Linked DNA regions of Homo sapiens: region 2 is linked to region 1. The links come from fine-mapping of genetic effects on gene expression. A gene starts in region 1. The other region holds a variant in brackets. All regions are shown on one strand. Distances are between the middles of the regions.

Region 1 (10,876 bases):
TCTTCACTTGCATTTCTTCACCCTGTGCCTACTCACCTGTTTAGCTTTTTCACCAAACAGGAAATTTATTAGGGCAAATCTCGAACCTCAAGGCGTCCTTGGGTAGTGTGGCCCGCCATTGTCTCCCGGGCCAGTAATTGAATCCAGTGATTTCACTTATTTTATGTAATTTATTCTGAAAACTTAGTCAAAAAAATAAATATGACAGTTTTTAATATAAATAAGTAGAATTTATCTCAATATAAATCAGCAGCCAGGTTTAAACAATTCTGTTAAAATATACATAACATAAAATTGGCCACTTTTACCATTTTAAGTGCACTATCCTGGGCATTCAGTCCATTCACGTTGTTGTGCAGCTGCCGCCACCATCCACCTGCAGAACTTCTTCTATCCCAAACTGAAACTCCACACCCACGAAACACTCACTCCCCATCCGCCCTGCCCCGGCCTCTGGTAATCGCTAATCTACTTTCTGTCTCTACGAATTTGACTCCTCTAGGTGGTCAATTTATACCTCATATAAATGGAATCCGGCAATATTTGGTCTTTCATGTTTGGCTGGTTTTGATTGGCATAATGTCTTCATTTTGTAAACAGCCAGGTTTTTAAGTTTTTGGTTGTGGGCCAGGTGCGGTGGCTCACGCCTGTAATCCCAGCACTTTGGGAGGCTGAGGCGGGTGGATCGCTTGAGGTCAGGAATTCGAGACCAGCCTGGCCAATGTGGTGAAACCGTGTCTCTACTAAAAACACAAAAATTATCCGGGCATGGTGGCTATAACTGTAATCCCAACTACTCGGGAGGCTGAGGCAGGAGAATCCCTTGAACCCGGGAGGTGGAGGCTGCAGTGGGCTGAGGTTGTGCCACTGCACCCCAGCCTAGGTGACAGAGCAAGACTCCATCTCAAAGGAAGTAATATAGACATTCTATTTCTAACTTTTTGTATCAAGTAAGATAGCTATTTAGTTTTATTTTTTCCGAATCATTTCAACACTGTGTATTGTGTAAATCCCCCCATGCTTTCCAATATTATATTTGTCATGTGCTAAATTCTCAGACATACCTGGATCCTTTTTTTTTTTTTTTTTTTGAGACAGAGTCTCACTCCGTCGCCCAGGCTGGAGTGCAGTGGCACGATCTCGGCTCACTGCAAGCTCCATCTCCTGGGTTCACGCCATTCTCCTGCCTCAGCCTCCTGAGTAGCTGGGACTACAGGCGCCCGCCACCACGCCCGGCTAATTTTTTGTATTTTTAGTGGAGACGGGGTTTCACTATGTTAGCCAGGATGGTCTCGACCTCCTGACCTCGTGATGTGCCCACCTCGGCCTCCCAAAGAGCTGGGATTACAGGTGCCCGCCACCACGCCCAGCCTACCTGGGTCTTTTTCTGAACTTCAGTTTTCTTCCACTGATCATTTGTCTATGCTTTGGTCACTGCCATATAGTTTTAATAACAAGAGCTTACTGTACATTTTCTTCTTTGAGGCAGCGTCTTGTTCTGTCTCCCAGGCTGGAGTGCAGCGGCACAATCATAGCTCATTGCAACCTTGAACTCTTGAGTTCATGCAATGCTTCTACCTCAGCCTCCCAAGTAGCTGGGACTATAGGCATGAGCTACTGTGCCCGGCCTGTTTTTATATCTGATAGAGAAAGGTTTCCTGAACATTCTTCTTTTTAAAAATGTTTGGCTAATTTTCTTTCAAGCATTCTTCCAAGTGTACTTTGAAATTCAACTTAAGTTAAAACAAATAAACAGAAAACAACGCAACGTAATTCTGATTGGGTCTGTATTGTATATGGAAGAATTGGCATGTTTTGTATGATTACATTTTTCCTACCCAGGAACACAAAATATCTCTCCTTTTGTTCAGGTACCTTGTCCTCCAGGGAATTACTGCAGTTTTCTACTCCAAGCATTGTTATTTGTTGAGTTTATTTGAAAATTCTTTTTACTTTTAGTAGCTATTTGAAATGGAAAGTTTAAAAGTTTGTGTTTTCTAAATGGTTACTACTGATACATATGTGTAAATACTCATCCGTTTGGTAATTTTTTAGTTACGTAGGCTAGATTTCCTCGTTAATCATGTCATTGGCCAACAGGAACATGTTTATCCCTTCTTCTTCAGCATTTACACCCTCTGGCCCTGGCCTTGGGCATAGGATACAGGACTTCAAGACGGCAGTGCCTCTTCCAGGAAGGCCTCTGGAATTTCATCCCTCAAGATGATAGTGCCTTTGGCTTTTGGTTTCAATATGTACATACATTTTATAACATTAAGCAGGTTTCATTGTTTTTCTGGTTTGCTAAGGATTTCTTTTTTTAGTGAGAACATTTTCTAAATGTTATCAAGTGCCTTTCAGTAGCTATTGAAATGTTACTGAAATGTTCAAATGGTCTCTCACTTTTAGTTTATTCATATAACAATTTATGTGGGTAAATATCTTAATTTGAACCAAACTTATGTTCTGGAATCAAGCCTACTGAGTCATGGGATTTTTTTTTTTTTTTTGAGATGGAGTCTCACTCTGTTGCCCAGGCTGGAGTGCAGTGGCGTGATCTTGGCTCACTGCAAGCTCTGCCTCCTGGGTTCACACCATTCTCCTGCCTCAGCCTCCCAAGTAGCTGGGATTACAGGCACCGCCACCATGCCCAGCTAATTTTTTTGTATTTTTAGTAGAGATGGGGTTTCACTGTGTTAGCCAGGATGGTCTCGATCTCCTGACCTCATGATCCACCTGCCTCAGCCTCCCAAAGTGCTGGGATTACAGGTGTGAGCCACCATACCTGGCCGGGATCACTTTTATTTTTTTAGAGAGAGGGTTTCACCATGTTGCCCAGGCTGGTCTCAAATTCCTGGGCTCAAGCAATCTTCCCACCTTGGCCTCCCAAAATGCTGGGATTACAGGTGTGAGCCACCGCACCCAGCCTCCTAAGGATCATTTTTAATAGGGACAGTTACTGCCCACTTGCTGATGGTTGATTTGGGTTCTTGAATCTCTCATTTCCCGTGAGACATTGATCTCTCATTTTCCTTGACTACTTTGGTCAGTCTTTGCTAGCAAAGCCTTCACTTTTATAAAATAACCTAGGAAAACCTTCACTTTATAAAAATAACCTCTTGCCTGTAATCCCAGCACTTTGGGAGGCCGAGGCGGGAGAATTGCCAGAGGCCAGGAGTTTGAGACTGGCCTGGGCAATATAGTGAGACCCCATCTCTATAAAAAAAAAGATAAAATAATCTCTTCAGGGGTTCTGTAGTAATTTAAATAACATGGAAATTATATATTCATGGAAGGTTTGTCAGAATCGGTAAAATGGTGTTGGCCTGGCGACCTCTGGGGGGAAGGGAGAGGGGGAGAAGTTTGTTTTTGTTTTTGAGACAGTCTCTCTCTGTCGCTCAGGCTGGAGTGCAGTGGCGTGATCTCAGCTCACTGCAACCTCCGTTTCCTGGGTTCAAGTGATTCTCGTGCCTCAGCCTCCCAAGTAGCTGAGATTACAGGTGCCTGCCACCACGCCCTGCTAATTTTTGTATTTTTAGTAGAGACGGGGCTTTGCCATGTTGCCCAGGGTGGTCTCAAACTCCTGGGCTCAAGTGACCTGCCCGCCTTGGCCTCCCCAAGTGCTGGCATTACAGGTGTGAGCCGCCCACCGTGCCCAGCCTGTTTTTGTTTTTTTGATTTTTGTTTTTGGCTCAAACCAGCAGTCCCCAACCTTTTTGGCACCAGGGATGAGTTTTGTGGAAGAAAATTTTTTCCATGGATGGGGGCAGGGGTGGGGGATGGTTTCAGGATGATTCAAGCACATTACATTGATTGTGTACTTTATTATCATTACATTGTAATATATAATGAAATCCTTATACAACTGCGCTATCATGAAGAATCAGTGGGAGCCCTGAGCTTGTTTTCCTGCAACTAGACAGACCCATCTGGGGGTGATGGAGATGGTGACAGGTCATCAGGCATTAGATTCTCATAAGAAGTCCACAACCGCTGGGCGCGGTGGCTCAGGGGCTGGGCTCGGAGGCTCACGCCTGTAATCCCAGCACTTTCGGAGGCCCAGGAGGGCAGATCACGAGGTCAGGAGATCGAGACCATCCTGGCTAACACGGTGAAACCCTGTCTCTACTAAAAATACAAAAAAATTAGCCAGGCATGGTGGTGGGCACCTGTAGTCCCAGCTACTCAGGAGGCTGAGGCAGGAGAATGGCGTGAACCCGGGAGGCGGGGCTTGCAGTGAGCCGAGATTGCGCCACTGCACTCCAGCCTGGGCGACAGAGCGAGACTGTGTCTCAAAAAAAAAAAAAAAAAAAAAAAAAAAAAGCCCACAACCTAGATCCCTCGCATGCGCAGTTTACAATACCGTTCGTGCTCCTCTGAGAATCAAATGCCACCACTGATCTGACAGGAGGCGGAGTTCTGCGGTAACATGAGTGATGAGGAGTGGCTGCAAATACAGATGAAGCTTCGTTTGCTCACTTCCTGTTGTGTGGCCCAGACAGGGCACTGTCTGTGGCCCCAGGGGTTGAGGACCCCTGGCTTTAACAACAGAAAGGTACCATCTTACAGTTCTGGAGGCCAAAGTCTGATATCCAGGTGTCTGCAGGGTTGATCCCTTCTGAGGCTGTGAGCAGGACCCCCTCCAGGCTCTCCTCTGGCCTTTGGTTTCCTTCCTTCCTTCCCTCCCTCCCTCACTCCTTTTCTCTCTCTTTCTTTCCTCCCCTCCCCTCTTCTCCCCTCTTCTCCCCTCCCCTCCCCTCCCGTTCTCCCCTCCCCTCCCCTCTCTTCTCCCTTCCCCTCTTCTCCCCTCCCCTCCCCTCTTCTCTCCTCTTCTCCCCTCCCCTCCCCTCTTCTCTCCTCTTCTCCCCTCCCCTCTTCTCCCCTCTTCTCCCCTCTTCTCTTCTCACTCTTTTGCCCAGGCTGGCGTGGTTTATGTTTGTGGTTTTTCTTTATTTATCTTGCCAGACATTTGCACGTTTTGATGAACTTTTCAAACAGCCAGTTCTTTGCTTTATATTCAATTGTAGACTGAGTTTTCCTGGGGGGTGTTGGAATTGGGGAGGAAGGATCTTTTTTTTTTTTTTTTTTGAGATGGAGTCTCACTCTGTCACCCAGGCTGGAGTCCAGTGGTGTGATCTCCACTCACTGCAACCTCTGCCTCCCAGGTTCAAGTGATTCTCCTGCCTCAGCCTCCTGAGTAGCTGAGATTACAGGCACCTGCCACCACACCCAGCTAATTTTTTGTTTGTTTCTTTGTTTGTTTCTTTGTTTGTTTGTAGAGATGGGATTTCACCATGTTGGTCAGGCTGGTCTTGAACTCCTGACCTCAAATGATCTGCCTGCTTCAACCTCCCAAAGTGCTGGGATTACAGGCATGAGCCACCGTGCCTGGCTGTGATCATTTATCTTGGCTTTTTTCTTAAGTCTTCTTCTGTTTCTGTTCTGCAGTGCATGGTGGCTCGTTTGTGTGAGTTCAACGCTCAGCTGTGCATTGTTTATCTCTTAGAGCAGGTGTGAATTTTCTGTTTTCAACCAGCTATGTGCAAACATGAACTCCTATTTTTATAACTGCTCAGACATTCCTATGACAGGGCCTCATTTCTGCTTGGCAACAAGAAAACTGAATTTAATTTCATTTAATCGGGTAAACAGTTCTGTCGGGTATTTTTCTCTAGCGGAGTCTGGTTGAAAGCTTCATCGCTCACAGAGAACATTCCAGCATTAGTGTCATGGCCTCTGGCCGGTGCAAGGGTTTCTCGGAGCCCAGGTGGCTCCCTGCGGGGAGGAGAATTCGACGCTCTGTCCCCTTCCTCTGCCAGGGACCCACTTACTAGTCTCCGGGGCTGCTGTAATAGAGGAACACAAACTGGGTGGCATCAAACAACATCACATTTCTCACAGTTCTGGAGGCCAAACTGCAACATCAAGATATTAACAGATAATGACCTGCTCCCTCTGCAGGCTGTAGGGGAAGAGCCTCCCTTGTCTTTCCCGGCTTCCAGGGCTGCTGGCCATCCTGGGCGTCCTTTGGCTTGTGGCTGCCTGGCTGCCATCCCTGCACCCGTTGTCGCTTGACCTTCCGTTCATGTGCCTCTGTTCTCTCTCCTTATACAGACCCCAGTTACTGGATTGGGATCCACCCTCACTCAATATGGCCTCAGCTTAATGAAAGACATCTGCAGAGACCCTATTTCTACTAAAAGCCACATTCTGAGACTTCTCGTGGGCGTGAGTTTTTGAGAGACACTGTTCTGCTCCATGCAGGGAGGGAATTGGGATCTGAAGACGTTGCATTCGAGGTCTCGGGGCTCCTGATGAGCAGCCTCGGCCTGACCTGGGGCAGGTGTGATGTCTGCGGCTCACCATCTCCACCCTGCCTGCTGTGGAATCTCCACAACGACAGGTGCTTTGGAGGCCAGAGTGCATGCGTACGGGCCCTGCACACGCTGAATGTCACTGGGAACAAGGACACACCCCGCTTCCAGGAGAAGATAGAACATGTCGACCCCTTTTGTGAGTACAATTTTTTGAAGTCTCCAAAGCAATGGGACTGCCCCGGGGAAGATGGAGGCTGTGAAGGGAGTGTTGACCCCAGTGGGAGGTGAACGGAACGGGATATGCGGGCGCTCGGGGTGGAAGAACGACGTAGGCGGTCAGTGGTCGGTGGGCCATGCCCACATCCGGGCTAGATGTCACTATGGTGCTGTTCTGTTTCCACACAGCCAGACAATGCACAAAATAGGCCATCTGGGCCATCTGGGGCGAACATCCAGCCTGGAGGCCCTCGAACAAGCCCACTGAGGGCCTCCAGTTGGGGGCACACATGGGTGACACCTGGCCTAGTGACGCCCCACCTGGGTTGCACGTTAAAGTCACTGGGGAACTTTTAAAGGGCTGATGTCTGATTTCTCCAGGGATTCCGAGGTGAGCGGGAACGAGGTGCGGTCTGGGCTTGGGGGTTTTAGTGTTGGTCATCCACAGCGACACTGAGAACGGAGGCTCTCTGTGGGTGAGCCCTTGGGGAACCCAGCTGACCAGGCCCCTGGGGTCCCATGAGGCCTAAGTCTGAGAAGACTTGTGTCTCCCAGAGCCTGCGGGCCGTCCCAGGCTTGTACCTCTGGCCCCGCTCTCCGCTCAGGCCGCTGAACAGGGCTGATCCACGTCCTTCAAACAGCTGCTCAGATATTTCAAATCAGCTTTCATGGGCTTTTCCATAGGAAGGGGACGTCTGCTTGCTGAAGCCAGCAGCTGGCCCGGCGGGAGGTGTGTCAGATGTGCTGGGGGAGCCGTGACCTTTCCTGGGTCCCCCACTGCTCAGCGCAGCCGCCTCAGGCACGCAGAGAGGATGGCCGAGGCTGCCAGAGGCCCTGTGGCTAGGTGTGAAGGACCTCTGGGTGCTGGAATCTGCACGTGTTCCTGTGTAGTGCTCAGCCCCTAGAGGACTTGCAGGTGGAGTGGGCGAGGACAAGTTTCTGGGGAGGACAGAGGCCTGGCCCTGGGGTGACAGATGGTGGTGTCACCTCATCCGGTCATTCATGAGCTGTGCACACTGGGCAGGTGGCCCCCTGCAGCCTCCGTTCTGCATTTTTGAAATGAAGGGGGCAGAGGGTGGCGTGCACAGTCTCAGCACATCACTCAGCATGGAGGGGCGCCGGTCATAATAATAAGGATGAAAAATCCCCTCTAGAGTTCCTTACCAGCCATGCGTGGTCCCAGGGCGTTCGCCAGGTTGGCAGTTGATCTAACCCCGCCACCCCAATAACCCAGAGTCAGCGACGCCTGTTGCCTCCACCCCAGCGCTGTGGGACTAAGGCCCAGGCAGGTTCAGTGGCTTGAACAGGTCACCTGGTTGGTGGGCAGGAGAGCAGGCGCCCCCGGCCACCAGTCTCAACGCCTCCTGGGCCCACTTGTGACTAGAATAGTGCTCTTGTGTTGACTATTGACTGACCAGGGCGCCCCTTCCACACCCACTCATCCCTGGGGTTCCTCTAGGGTCCCACGCCTCCTAGGGTCCCTCTGCAGCCTCCACTCACAACTAGAAGCTGAATGACCTTGGTTCTTCCAAATGACCTTTGGAATGACCGATTGTTCTGCTTTCTTCTGAAGACCATATGACACATTATCAGACCAAACCAGAGCTCTTGGTTTTCGGATCTGGGGATGAATTCTTTAGCACAGATGGAACCATGAACTTCTATGATCAACTGCCAGGAAGGAAATACCTCAGGTAATGCCGCTGCCTGCTGCTGATGCGGGGACAGCCAGTTCCCCACGGTCACATCTGCCTGACGATTAGACTAGGGAAGAATTTGGGCAAAACAGCAAGTCTTAAGGTTTGTTTGGAAATGATCAGGCCAAGCAAAGCCAGAGACTGGAAATTGTATTTCCAGATCTTCATTCAGATTCTTTTCTCTATGATTCGTAAAATTAAAAAGATTAAAAATTCACATTTGAATTCCAAAAATTCTTACTTTTTTTTTTTTTTTTTTTTTTTTTTTTTTTGAGACAGGCTCTCGTTCTGTTGCCCAGGCTGGAGTTCAGTGGCATGATCTTGGCTCACTGCAGCCTCGAACTCACAGGCTTAGGTGATCCTCCCACCTCAGCCTCCTCAGTAGCTGGGACTACAGGTATGTGCTACCATACCCGGCTAATTTTTTAAAAAACCTTTAGTAGAGATGAGGTCTTGCTATGTTGCCCAAGCTCGAATAATCCACCACCTCGACCTCCCAAAGTGCTGGGATTACAGGTGTGAGCCATTGCACGCAGCCTCAAAAATTCTTACTATTCTTCTAAAGCCCTCATTGTGTAGTATCTTCTTACCTTTTCCCCCTTTATTCAAAATATTCCAAATCTCTGCCCCTGGAACTGCCTTGTGTCGTCTTTTTTTTTTTTTTTTTTTTTTTGAGATAGAGTTTCGCTCTTGTCGCCCAGGCTGGAGTGTAATGGCATGATCTCCGCTCACCACAACCTCCACCTCCCGGGTTCGAGTGAATCTCCTGCCTCGGCCTCCTGAATAGCTGGGGTTACAGGCACGTGCCACCACACCCAGATAGTTTTGCATTTTTAGGGGGTTTCTCCATGTTAGCCAGGCTGGTCTCGAACTCCTGACTTCAGGTGATCTGCCCGCCTCAGCCTCCCAAAGTGCTGGGATTACAGGCGTGAGCCACTGCGCCCGGCTGCCTTGTGTCTTCTTAAAAGAGGAAGCTGCGGTGTCCTTATCATTTCATGGCTATGTTGATTTCTGTGTAATTGGAGGCCCTGAATTTTCATCCTTAACATTGTCCTCTGGGTGGTGGCCCCAGACGGCTCCGATGGCAGCAGGCACATGTCCAAGCCCGCTCTCCAGCCCCCATCAGGTCCCTGGCTTGATACAGGGCAGCGTCTTCCCATTCTATGAGCACTCAGACTCTCTGCTCAGACACGGTGGGACTCTCCACCCCGGTCCTTGGCGTTCTGATGGGGTCGGCTTCCTGGGGCTCCTGGAACAAATGTTCATGCATTGGGCAGCTGAAAGCAACAGCAGCTGATTCTCTCGCGTCCTGGAGGTCAGAAGCCCAGGATCCAGGTGTCAGTAGGGCTACTCTCTCTCCGAAGGCTCCCAGCGAGGGTCCTACCTGCCTCTTCCAGCTTCCGGTGGCCCCAGGTGTTCCTTGGTATGTGGCGGCGTCACTCCAGTCTCTGCTCCATCTCACATGAACTTCTCCTCTGGGCCTGTGTCTCAAGTCTCCCTCTGCCTTTCTCTGATAAGGACACCAGTCACTGGATATGGGGCATGCCCTAATCTCATATAATCTCATCTCAAAATCCTTAACTTAATTACATCGGCAAAGGTCCTTTTTCCAAGGATTCACAGGTACTAGGAGTTAGGACTTGGTGAATCGTTTTTCCAAGGATTCACATTCACAGGGGCTGGGGTTAGGGCTTAGACATAGCTTTTAAAAAAAAAATGGCTTTAGGCCTGGTGCGGTGGCTCATGCCTGTAATCCCAGCACTTTGGGAGGCCGAGGCAGGTGGATTATGAGGTCAGGAGATCATCAAGACCATCCCGGCTAACATGGTGAAACCCCATCTCTACTAAAAATACAAAAAAATTAGCCAGACATGGTGGCGGGCGCCTGTAGTCCCAGCTACTGGGGAGGCTAAGGCAGGAGAATGGCGTGAACCTGGGAGGTGGAGCTTGCAGTGAGCCAAGTTCATGCCACTGCACTCCAGCCTGGGCGACAGAGCAAGACTGTCTCAAAAAATAAAAATAAAAATAAATAACTTTATTGACATAATTTACATACCACGTAATTCACCCATTTAAAGTGTACAATTCAATGGGTTTGAGTATATCATGAATTTCTTAAAATTGTGGTAAAATATATGTAGCATAAAATCTGCCATCTTAACATTTTAAGTGTACGGACATGATTTTTTGGGGGCATAGCCTACTGCAGGGATGGTTGACTCATGCAGGGAGCAGCCCTGCCTTGGGCTTTTCTGTCCTGAAACCTCAGAGCTCATGCCTGCATTTCCCTCTGCCCAGGCCCCTGGCTGCTGTTCCCCCAGGGGGCTCCTGGAAAGTCCAGCCCCCAACTCCAGCGAAGGAGCCCCCTGCTTCTCTGCATGGCCACTGTTCATGTCCTCCGCAGCATCCGGCACAATGCACACCTACCTGCCTCTGTTTGCAGACCCGATGATGATGTTTTCCTCCAAGATACCCCATCGGGTACCCGTCCCCGTCCTAAGCTCAGCTCAGTGCATGGCAGAGTGCAGGAGCCCTGTAGGGTTTTGGAAGGAGGACAGTGAACTTGAAGTCTTGGCTGGCGGGCAGTGGAAGGTGGGAGAAGATCCTCGGGTAGCGTCGGTTTTCTTAACTGAGAGGAAATTCACA
Region 2 (10,876 bases), 38 kb after region 1:
AACTGATGACTGAGACAGTGAAAGATCTGACTTAACCGACCCCATCTTGCTTCTAACCTCCAAGCTGTCCTTGCTCATTCTTGGCCGTGGGTGGAATGAGCTCATTCCAAAGCTCATTCCTGAACTAGCTTTGGGAGAAACTTAGTTTATAGTTTATAACTCTATGATTTATGGTTTAAAACAAAGACGATAACAGCCCCTTCCCAAGGCAGACCTTCTTGCCTGGGGACTAGATTGCCTTTGTAGGACTAACATGAGCCACAAGATTAGAAATCGTGGTTTAGGAGTCACGTGGCTGGAAGTGACAAGATTCTGACCCTCCCAAAACTGCCGCTCTTGCTTCAGTGATTCTGCCGCAGATGCTATGCTGTGATGTGGATGGCTGAGCATGGACCCTGAGGAGCTTGGCTGTGTGGATTTCAGAGATCTCTGGCTTATGCCTTGTGAGGAAAATGGACATCTTGGATAAGAACATATGTCCCCATTGGGGCTTGGGTTTAGACAACAGATACGAGGCAAAGACCACGGAGCAACCACTGTGACGATTCATAGGTTTGCGAGACATGAGGTGTACATTTTCTGCAATTCAATAGTCTCAGCAACTGACAAAATGGGAGGTGTATAACCTATAGAACTTCTGGGGGTAAATAAGACATCAATCAATACATATAAGGTATACATTGGTTCGGTCTGGAAAGGTTTGGGACAATTCGAAGTTGGGAGCTTCCAGGTCATTCTAAATACCAGTCATGCTGTAAACCAACAGATGCCAGCACGCAAGGCCCAGCCAGCCCGGTAACTAACCATTTGCCTTTTTTAGGGCTTTCTATGAGGTCAGTAAACATTTTGAAAGGCTAAGTAAGGTTTTCCTCTTCCTGTTTCCTTGTGCTCTGAACCTCCCTAACCTGCCCCCTGGGCCTGCTGGCCTGGCTACACACACTGCCCCAGGCAAAAATGGTTGGAGGGATCTGTATGGGACTTTGATGAGAGCTGGTTTAGAGAAGGTGAGGATGGAGGTCAAAGCCACAGAGGCGGCTGAGGAGTGGGTGGGCTATGGGCTTTTTGAATCCGCTACTTGAAGCAGAGGGATGGGGTGGCAGCTGGAGGGGGGTGGCAGCTGGAGGGAGGTGGCCTTGTCTTGTTTTTGAGATGCGGGATTCTATGGCATATTTGCATTTTGGTGGCAGCGAGCTGGTAGACGAGGAGAAAGTGGGGGTAGGGACAATAGCAGGCAAAAAGTTTCTGAGAAGGCAACAGAGAGGAATAGTTTAGAAATGGGAGTTTGCCTCTCCCAATTACTGGGGTGACTGAAGCGGACCCAAATCTAGCCCTCTGCCTGTTTTAAGTAAAGTTTTATTGGCACACAGCCACGCCTATTCACTTACATATTGTCTGTGACTGCTGTAGAACTCCAGTGTCAGAGTTGAAATGCTGCCGCAGAGATCATCTGGCTCTCAAAGCCTAAAGTACACCCTGGCCCTTTGTGGGAGGTTTGCTGACCTCTGCCACCCCTAAGGTAGGCTGTGAACTTGAAGGAAGGGTTAGGGGCAGACCTAGCCCCTTGCAAAATCCTCAAAAATCCCTGTGAGCAGCTGTGAGCTCAGAGTTTTTGCATTTCAGCAAACTCAGAGAACTCAGAGTTTACAAATTTCCAGCCACAGAGAGTTCGCAGCCTGATGAGGAGTTTGCATTTTCCTCTCTCAGGAAGCCGTTTGCTACAGTGCAGATGTGGCCAGGAGGCCAGTGTGTCACACTGATCATGGTGGCATGTGCCTGCAGTCCCATTATGCAGGAGGCTGAGGTGGAAGGATTACTTGAGCCCGGGAGGTCAAGGCTGCAGTGAGCTGCGATCATATCACTCCACTCCAGCCTGGGTGACAGAGTGAGAACCTGTCTCAGAAAAAAAAACGCCAGCTCATATTAATTAAAAAATAGATATAATCCAAAACATATTTTCCGATAAATAGACAAATATACACACTGGGCCCAATACTCATTCCTTACAAGTACAAATTACATGTCTTCCTAAAAAAGAAGCTTCCTAACCATGAGACAGTCAACACTGGTCTTATAAACATAACTGGATGGTGGATTTATGAGCAAAAGAGAAAACTTACAAAATGAAATAAATATAAAAAGCCGTGTTTACTCATTTCTGCTTGTGAGCATAATTTCGCATAGCCCCTGACTCTGTGCTGACATGTAACTCTCCACAAAAATATTTAAAAGACAAAACAAAACACCTGCCCCTTCAACATCTCTTACCTAAGTCACTATATTCCTTAAAAAATACCTGACCTGGCCAGGCGCAGTGGATCACACCTGTAATCCCAGCACTTTGGGCTGAGTGAGCAGCTGTGAGCTCAGAGGTTTTGCGTTTCAGCAAACTCAGAGAACCCAGAGTTTACAGATTTTTGGCCGAGGCCGAGGCAGGCAGATCACCTGAGGTCAGGAGTTCGAGACCAGCCTGACCAACATGGAGAAACCCTATCTCTACTAAAAGTACAAAATCAGCCGGGTGTGGTGGCGCATGCCTACAATCCCAGCTACTCGGGAGGCTGAGGTGGGAGAACTGCTTGAAGCCGGGAGGCGGAGGTTGCCGTGAGCTGAGATCGTGCCATTGCACTCCAGTCTGGGCAACAAGAATGAAACTCTATCTCAAAAAAAAAAAAAAAAAAAAAAAACCTGACCCCTTGTTGTTTCCTACACACATGGTAACCACTGATGAGAGTCACAATGTTGATGAGAAAACCAAACTCTGTAAAATATTCAGAGATGCTTATCCTGAGCCAACATGAGCAACCACAGTGGCAGAACTGTCTCAAGAGTTCCTGAGAAAGTGTGCCCAGGGTGGTGAAGTTACAATTTGGTTTTATACTGTTGACAAAAAAGAGTCAAACTGTGTGAAATATTTGAAGAGATTTATTCTGAGCCAAATATGAGTGACCAGTGGCCCCCGGAGATCCTGAGAACGTGTGTCCACGGTGATTGGGTTCCAGCTTGGTTCTATACATTTTATGGAGACATGAGGCATCAGTCATTACACGTAAGATGTACATTGGTTGGGTCCAGAAAGGCGGGACAACTGGAAGTCGGGGTGGGGGTTGGGGGGACTTCCAGGTCATAGGTAGATTCAAAGATTTTCGGATTGGCAATTGGTTTAAAGAGCTATTCTCTAAAGACCTGGAATGTCTGGGTTAAGATAAGGGGTTGTGGAGACCAAGGTTTTACCACACAGACGAAGCCTCCAGGAGGCAGGCTTCAGAGAGAATAGATGGTAAATGTTTCTTATCAGATCTAAAGAGTCTGTTCTATCAGTCTTAGGGTCTCTGTGTTGATGTTACTGCTGGTCAGCTGTGCCTGAGTTCCAAAGGGAAGAGGACATAATGAGGCATGTCCAACATCCCCTTCTAGGCTGGAGTTCCAGACCAGCCTAGGCAACATAGCGAGACTCTGTCTCTTAAAAAAAAGGTATCCCAGTTTGTGTAACAGATTCTGTGATTACCTTTTCCGTGTAATAGGCACTCTCAGAAAATATCTTCTGAATTGAATGGAATAATTTGGAACATAACGAAGTAATAGTTTTGCTAAAATGTTTAAAGTGTTGAACTGTTTTTCAGGTTGACTTTGGAAAGCCCTTGGCCAAGAGGAGAGGTCCATTCAGATGATGGGGGAGCTTAGAATTGTATTTTTGGTTTACAGTGCATTTTAGGGAGACCAAAGTTACAGGCAAAGACATAAATCAGTACATGGAGCGTATACATTGGTTCAGCCTAAAGTGGTGGGATACCTTGAAGTGGGAGTTGGAGGGCTTACAGGTCACAGGAAGATTCAAAGATTTTCCAATTGGCAATTGGTTGAAAGAGTTAAGCTTTGGCTAAAGTCTTGAGGTCAGTAGAAAGAAATGCTTGAGTTAAGATAAGGGGGGTTGTGGAGACCAAGGTTCTTGTTGTATAGATGAAATCTCCAGGTAACAGCCTTCAGAGGAAATAGGTGGTCAATGTCTCTTTTCAGACCTTAAACGTGTCAGACTCTTAGTATTTCCTAGATCTGGGAAAGACCTGGCTGCATTAATGGTGCTTTTCTACAGAATGCAAATTTCCCTCACAAAAGACAGCTTTGTAGGGCCGTTTCAACATATGTCACGCCAGTAATCCCAGCACCTTGGGAGGCCTAGGCGGGCGGATCATCTGAGGTCAGGAGTTCGAGACAAGCCTGGCCAACATGGTGAAACCCCGTCTCTACTAAAAATACAAAAATTAGCTGGGTGTGGTGGTGGGCGCCTGTCATCCCAACTACTCGAGAGGCTGAGGCAGGAGAATCATCTGAACCCAGGAGGCGGAGGTTGCAGTGAGCTGAGATGTGCCACTGCACTCCAGCTTGGGCAACAGAGCGAGACCCTGTCTCCAAAAAAAAGAAAAAAATATATTGTGGGGTAAAATATTTTGATTTCCTTCAGGGTCTGCCATCTGTCATGTGATACTACACCAGGGCCAAGTTGGAACATGGTATCTCATTGCCACAGGAGTCTCTTCTGCCAGACTTCTGATCTCTTTTCTAACCTTAGTGCTGGTCATCTGTGCCTAAACTCCAAAAGAGAGGGGATAGAGACCATCCTGACTAACATGGTGAAACCCCGTCTCTACTAAAAATACAAAAAAGTAGCCAGGTGTGGTGGAGGGCGCCTGTAATCCCAGCTACTCAGGAGGCTGAGGCAGGAGAATCGCTTGAACCTGTGAGGTGGAGGGTGCAGTGAGCCAAGATCGCGCCACTGTACTCCAGCCTGGGCAACAGAGCGAGACTCCGTCTCAAAAAAAAAAAAAAAAAAAAAAACAGAAACAAAAAAAACAAAGAGAAAGAGAGAGAGGGGATATAAGCAGGTATGCCTCACCTCCCTGGGAGATCGGGCTGGGAATTCAATTTTTCAGGTGACTATGTGGTCAACTTGGCCAAGAGGGGGTTCATTCAGTTGGTGGTGAGGCTCAGGATTTTATTTTTCATTTTTAATAATTATTCTATAATCTACAACCAGATATACTCTTATACCCAAGCTTTAATATAATTTTACACCTACTAAACCCCCACTACCTGTATATAAACTGTAAATTAAAACACTATTTCAAAACAGTCCGACAAACCCCCTCTAAAAGACTTCTCCCAGGCTGTGGTCGGTCTCTAGTCCTCAATAAAACTTCTAAATAAAACTAACTTTGAAATCGTAAAAAATAATTTTTTTCCTTCCTCAACATACTTTAGCACTAGCCAGGCAAGACAAGAAAGGCAGTAAGGACTGTTGCGATTCCTCGTTCCCATCTATAATTTTTTTTTTTTTTTTTTTTTTTTGAGAGAGAGTCTCCCTCTGTCACCCAGGCTGGAGTGCAGTGGTGTGATCTCAGCTCACTGCAATCTCCGCCTCCTGGGTTCAAGCGATTCTCCTGCCTCAGCCTCCCCAGTAGCTGGGATTACAGGCGCATGCACGCCCGGCTAATTTTTGTATTCTTAGTAGAGACGGGGTTTCACCATGTTGGCCAGGCTGGTCTCAAGCTCCTGACCTCAAGTGATCCACCTGCCTCGGCCTCCCAAAGTGCTGGGATTACAGGCGTGAGCCACCGCGCCCTGCCCCCATCTGTATTTTTAATAGAGATGGGGTTTCACCACGTTTGCCAGGCTGGTCTCAACTCCTCCTAGTTCCCTATTGCTTAAGAAGCCTTCAGGGAGGGAGGCCAGACTGCACGGAAACGCGCCTTGGGTAATTAATTCCCAAAGCTGGGTTGCGCCATCCACCGCGGTGCTTGACGCGGGGTCAGGAGGCGGC[T/C]TCCGGAGGCCAGCTAGTCTCTGCAGCGCGGATAATCTTCCCTCCCCACCGCAGGAGTCTGGTGCTCCTCAGAGATGAGCCCTGTCACAGTGGAATAAATGTCCTTGGGGTAGATTTCGAGACAGACAGACGTGAGTCAAACCACAGGCAGGAAATTTCATTTCCAGACTGCGCTCAAATTCTTTTTTCCTGACTCATGACATTCAAAACACATTTCATTTTACAGACCAAGCTGAGCGCCCTTCGGCCAGAGGCCCCGACCCCAGGGCCATGTGGTTCACTCCCTTCCTTCCCTTCAAGTTCAGAGTTAAACTTGAGAGCTTCCTGCAAACAGGACCAAAGGTCAACAGAAGCGCGGGGCAGGAAGGGGAGGGTGCTCTCTGAATGGGGGAAGCCCAGTGCCTTGCCGCTTTTTGACATCATTTGGACTCAGATATTTAACTTACAGCACTTGATTTTCATCATAGAGTTTTTTTTTTCCCAATATATTATAAACCAAGTCACTGAGGAAGAGATTATTCTATAATACAGTTTAGGGTTTAAAAAAATATATTCCAGGGCCGGGCACAGTGGCTCACGCCTGTAATCCCAGCACTTTGGGAGGCCAAGGCAGGTGGATTACCTGAGGTCAGGAGTTCGAGACCAGCCTGGCCAACATGGTGAAACCCCCCCCCCGTCTCTACAAAAAATACAAAATTAGCTGGGTGTGGTGGTGCACACCTGTAATTCCAGTTACTCTGGAGGCTGAGGCAGGAGAATCACCTGAACCCGGCAGGCGGAGATTGCAGTGAGCCGAGATTGTACCATTGCACTCCAGCCTGCACAAGAGTGAAACTCTGTCTCAAAAAAAATAAATAAATAAAATATATATATATATATATATATATATATATTCCAAAGAAAAGGGGTCTTTGTCCCTTTAAGGAAAGAAATTTGGTATTTCCAGATGTCTGGTAGAAGTTGAGCTACAACATGCTGGAAGCCCGGGGAGGGACCATTGACCTCCTAGAGCCCAGCCTGTCCTTGAATCCCCACCCAGCGAAGATGTGAAGTGAGCTGGGGCAAGGGGCATGATGAGCGGACGGACGGCCCGGAAAAGCCCAGGTAGGCGCCGGGCACTCCCTCTCTCCCTGCAGCAGCAGGAGGCACAGGCTGCAGGGTCACAGCCAGGGTCTCTCCTGCTAGGGAAACAGTCACCGTGAGCGAGCCCAGCCACCATGGCAGAGGTGACAGGTACTCCCGAGTTCTGAGCGCTCCTCTATCGTTCTGCTGTGCGCCTGGCTGCTCACCGGAAAGCATTTGTCTCTGAGTCCAATCCGCCCTGATTTCTCATTTGTTTGGTTGGTGATGGTTCTGCTGAAATAGACCCAGAGCAGCAAGGGTCACTTCTGAGGAGCGTGGACCCATGGAGCAAAGATTCCCCGCCCTGTGTGTACTTGGACCCAAACAGGTGCTTTGAAAGCCTCCACGCTTGGCCCCGACCCTCCAGTGCCCTTAATTCTCAAAGCGTCCCAGGTGATTCTGCCCGTGGCTAAGCAGAGAACCTCAGCCTTAAGTTACACCTGCCACTCAGGTAACCCGTGGGGCTTGTTGAAGGCAACTCAGGCCTCAGGTGTGAATGACCATAAAGCAGGGAAGGCTGGGCGTGGGGGTTCATACCTGCGCGCCGAGAACTTCGGGAGGCCGAGACAGGAGGATTGTCTGAGACCAGGAGCTTGAGACCAGCCTGGGCAACAACGTGAGTCTTACTTTTTTGTCTCTACAAAAAATAAAATTAGCCAGGCGTGGTGGCAAGGGCCTGTAGTCTCAGCTACTCGGGAAGCTGAGATGGGAGGATTGCTTGAGTCAAGGCCAGCCTGGGCAATATAGAAATACCCTTTCTTTCAAAAAATTAAAAAATAAAAAAAGCCAGGCATGGTTGTGTGCCCCTGTAGTCCCAGCTACTCAGGAGCTGAGGTGGGAGGTTGGTTTGAGCCCCAGATGTCAAGATTGCAGCGAGGTATGATTGTGCCACTGCACTCCAGCCTGGGCAGACAGCAAGACCCCTAAAATAGGGAAACACTGAAAGCCTTTTTAACAAGGATAACTGGCTACTTTCAGTGAATTTGCTTAAAACAGAAACCAAAATTTTACTCTAAATCAGTGACTCTCAAACCTTAGCCTGCATCAGAGTCCATTGGGGGCTTGTGAAATACAGATTGCTGCCCCACAATCTGGGGTGGCCCCGGGCTCTGTGATCCCAACGAGAATCCAGCTGATGCAGAGGCTGTTGGCCCAGGGGCCCCACTCTGAGAACCTCCGCTCTAAGTGGAGTGGCGGTGGGGGGGGGTGGGGAATAAAAATGAAAATTATAGAAGACTTGTGTTATCTAATTAATAAAAATGCAGGTTGCAGGTGCTGTCAGTTCTCAGCATAATCACAGCATGACCGAGCAGAGAGGAAGGGCAGGGAGGGGCGGCCCCATGCCTGCGGGCCGGACTGCCTTCTCAGCACGCGTCAGATGGACCGATGCCACCTGAAGGTGCTTGCGGTGGACACAGAATGTGCGGATGGGGAGATGGCAGGAGGGACAGGGCTTGGCGATGCTGACATCACAGGCAGCCCATGTGAAGTGGAAGGGTTCCTACTGAGGGCTGAGAACAGACACCAGCCCCCAGGAGCCAGACCACGCCCCAGGGGAGGGACGCGCCCTGCCTGGAGTCCTGAGAATCTACCTTTCCTCCTCCCCCAGATTCAGAACCCCCTTATTATGCTGAGGCCTGACAAAAGGCTCCCTCCTTGACCCAACTTCAGGCAGACTCTGCTGAGCCCTCTTTTTTTTTTTTTTTGAGACAGAATCTCACTCTATCACCTAGGCTGGAGTGCAGTGGTGCGATCTCGGCTCACTGCAACCTCTGCCTCTCTGGTTCAAGCGATTCTCCTGCCTCAGCCTCCCAAGTGGCTGGGATTACAGGCGCCTGCCACCACGCCTGGCTAATTTTTGTATTTTAGTAGGGACGGGGTTTCACCATGTTGGCCAGGCTGGTCTCAAACTTCTGACCTCAGGCAATCCACCCGCCTCGGCCTTCCAAAGTGCTGGGATTACAGGCGTGAGCCACTGTGCCTGGCCCACTGAACCCTCTTTTGATAAGGCCTCCGTTCTCGAGCCCGGTCCTCAGCCTGCCCACGCCAGTCTCAGCAGAGAATCCTACTGAGTCACCCCAACCCTTGAAATCTGATCGAGTTCCTCAGCACCTCTGCTTTCCCCCGGCCATATCCAGGTCCTTGGTCTGCCTTTAGCAAGAACCCCCACTTGAAGTTCTCCTCTTAGCAATTTTCCATCCACTGACCCCTCGCTGCTCATGGCTGTAAGTCCCCATCTGCAGGGTGGTGTTGGGATCAAGTTCGGCTCTTTCCCCGGTTGCAACATCCCGTATATGGTCTGTCCCTATCTCTTTGAGTCTACATGAGGTGTGTCTGTGACCACTGCCTGTGCCCCAGGTACGTCTCCCTGTGTGGGCGGAGGCAAACTCCTCCAGAGACCCCACACTGTTTCCCAGCCTGGATGGCTTGGAATCCATGCATTTCTGTGCTTTGTTGGGGGCCTCACCCTTAGGACCTGTGTGCAGAGACTCCTAAAGAGAAAAGGTTCCCAGGTCTCCACAGCGTGTACCCTTGCTGTGACCTTTGGAAACCTGGCTGGCAGGGACTTCTCTGGCCGCGGTGTCCTGCCCCTGAAGGGAAGGGTGGTCTACCTGGCCAGCCTGACTGCTCAGGCCCAGCCCTCCCTTTCCACCCAACTTCAAGGGTAAGGACGCGCCTGGGCAGGAGGACAAAGGCCACCTCCTGTTCCTCTGCTGGGAACGCAGCAGGAGGACACGCGGCAGGGCCCCAGTAGACAGAGGGAGGTGGGGAGCCTGATGAAACACAGACGGCCCGGCCTCTCCTGTCTGCAAGCATCCCCGGCAGCGGGAAAGGGACCTGCGATTTTCTTTAATGATGGGTAATGTCTTCATGAAATTTGCCTTCCAAGTTCATTCAGCTGGGAGGAAGTGTTGCCCCTGGGGATGACTGAGTTCTCTCAGCTCATCCCGGCCCTACCTCGATGTGGGCTGTGACTGACAGAAGCAAAAAAAGAGTGAAGGGCATCCTCGGCTGGTGGCCCTGGCAGGGAGGACTGAAGCCAGACACCCACTCCCCTGCCCCCAATCCAACACCCAGCCAGGAAGAGAAACATGAGGCAAGTGCCTGTCAATCAAGGAAAATGAGCCAGGTGAGTCTCAATCATTTCAGGAGGTTTATTTGCCAAAATTAAGGACATATGCCTGGGAGGCAGGTCTATGCTTTTCTCTGAAGATGATTTTGAGGGCTTCAATATTTAAAGGGAAAAGGGCAGGCTATTGAGAAATACAATTTTCTTTCTCTTCTTTTTTTTTTTTTTTGGGAGATGGAGTTTTACTCTGTTGCCCAGGCTGGAGTGCAGTGGTGCAATCTCAGCTCACCACAACCCCCATCTCCTGGGTTCAAGTGATTCTCCTGCCTCACCCTCCCTAGTAGCTGGGACTACAGGTGTACATCATCATGCTCAGCTAATTTTTTTGTAGTCATAGTGGAGACGGGGTTTTACCATGTTAGCCAAGCTGGTCTGGAACTCCTGACCTCAAGTGATCCACCTGCCTCGGCCTCCCAAAGTGCTGGGATTACAGGTGTAAGCCACTGTGCCCAGCCAGAAATACACAGTTTTCATGTGAGAGGGAGGTAGGGGAAAATAGTCATTCATGCCTTTGTCTGGCTTGGTGAATCTGCATTGTTACCTAAGATAACGTAGACAATGGGGCAGAGGAAGCAATCAGCTATGCACTTGCCTCAGGTGGGCAGAGGGATGTCTCAGTCAGTGCAGTGTCTCCCCGACACCTGTGAAGGTAAGCTATCAATTGACATTGCCATGGTGAAATTTAACAGAAACCCTTTAGGGTAAAGATCTTGGGGCCCACAAGAAATTTCACTCAAAAAAATGAGTGAAGGGGGCCCTTGGCTGGTGGCCCTGGCAGTGAGGACTGAAGCCAGACAACCCCACACACA

The links.
Region 2: its variant is fine-mapped to the expression of SCAT1 in lung (GTEx, PIP 0.94).

Annotation. Positions count from the first base shown.
Region 1 is chr17:78,625,669-78,636,544 of GRCh38, reverse strand. SCAT1 (S-phase cancer associated transcript 1) reads left to right here and starts at 4,488. Exons shown (of 5, transcript NR_110849.1): 1 at 4,488-4,555; 2 at 6,115-6,513; 3 at 8,510-8,627. RefSeq lists enhancers at 4,153-4,654, 10,071-10,570.
Region 2 is chr17:78,587,542-78,598,417 of GRCh38, reverse strand. No RefSeq gene overlaps it. Among named protein-coding and RNA genes, the nearest start is that of DNAH17, 16 kb to the right of the region's middle. RefSeq lists enhancers at 9,105-9,617, 9,618-10,130. The variant T/C (reference allele first, on the strand shown) is at 5,816.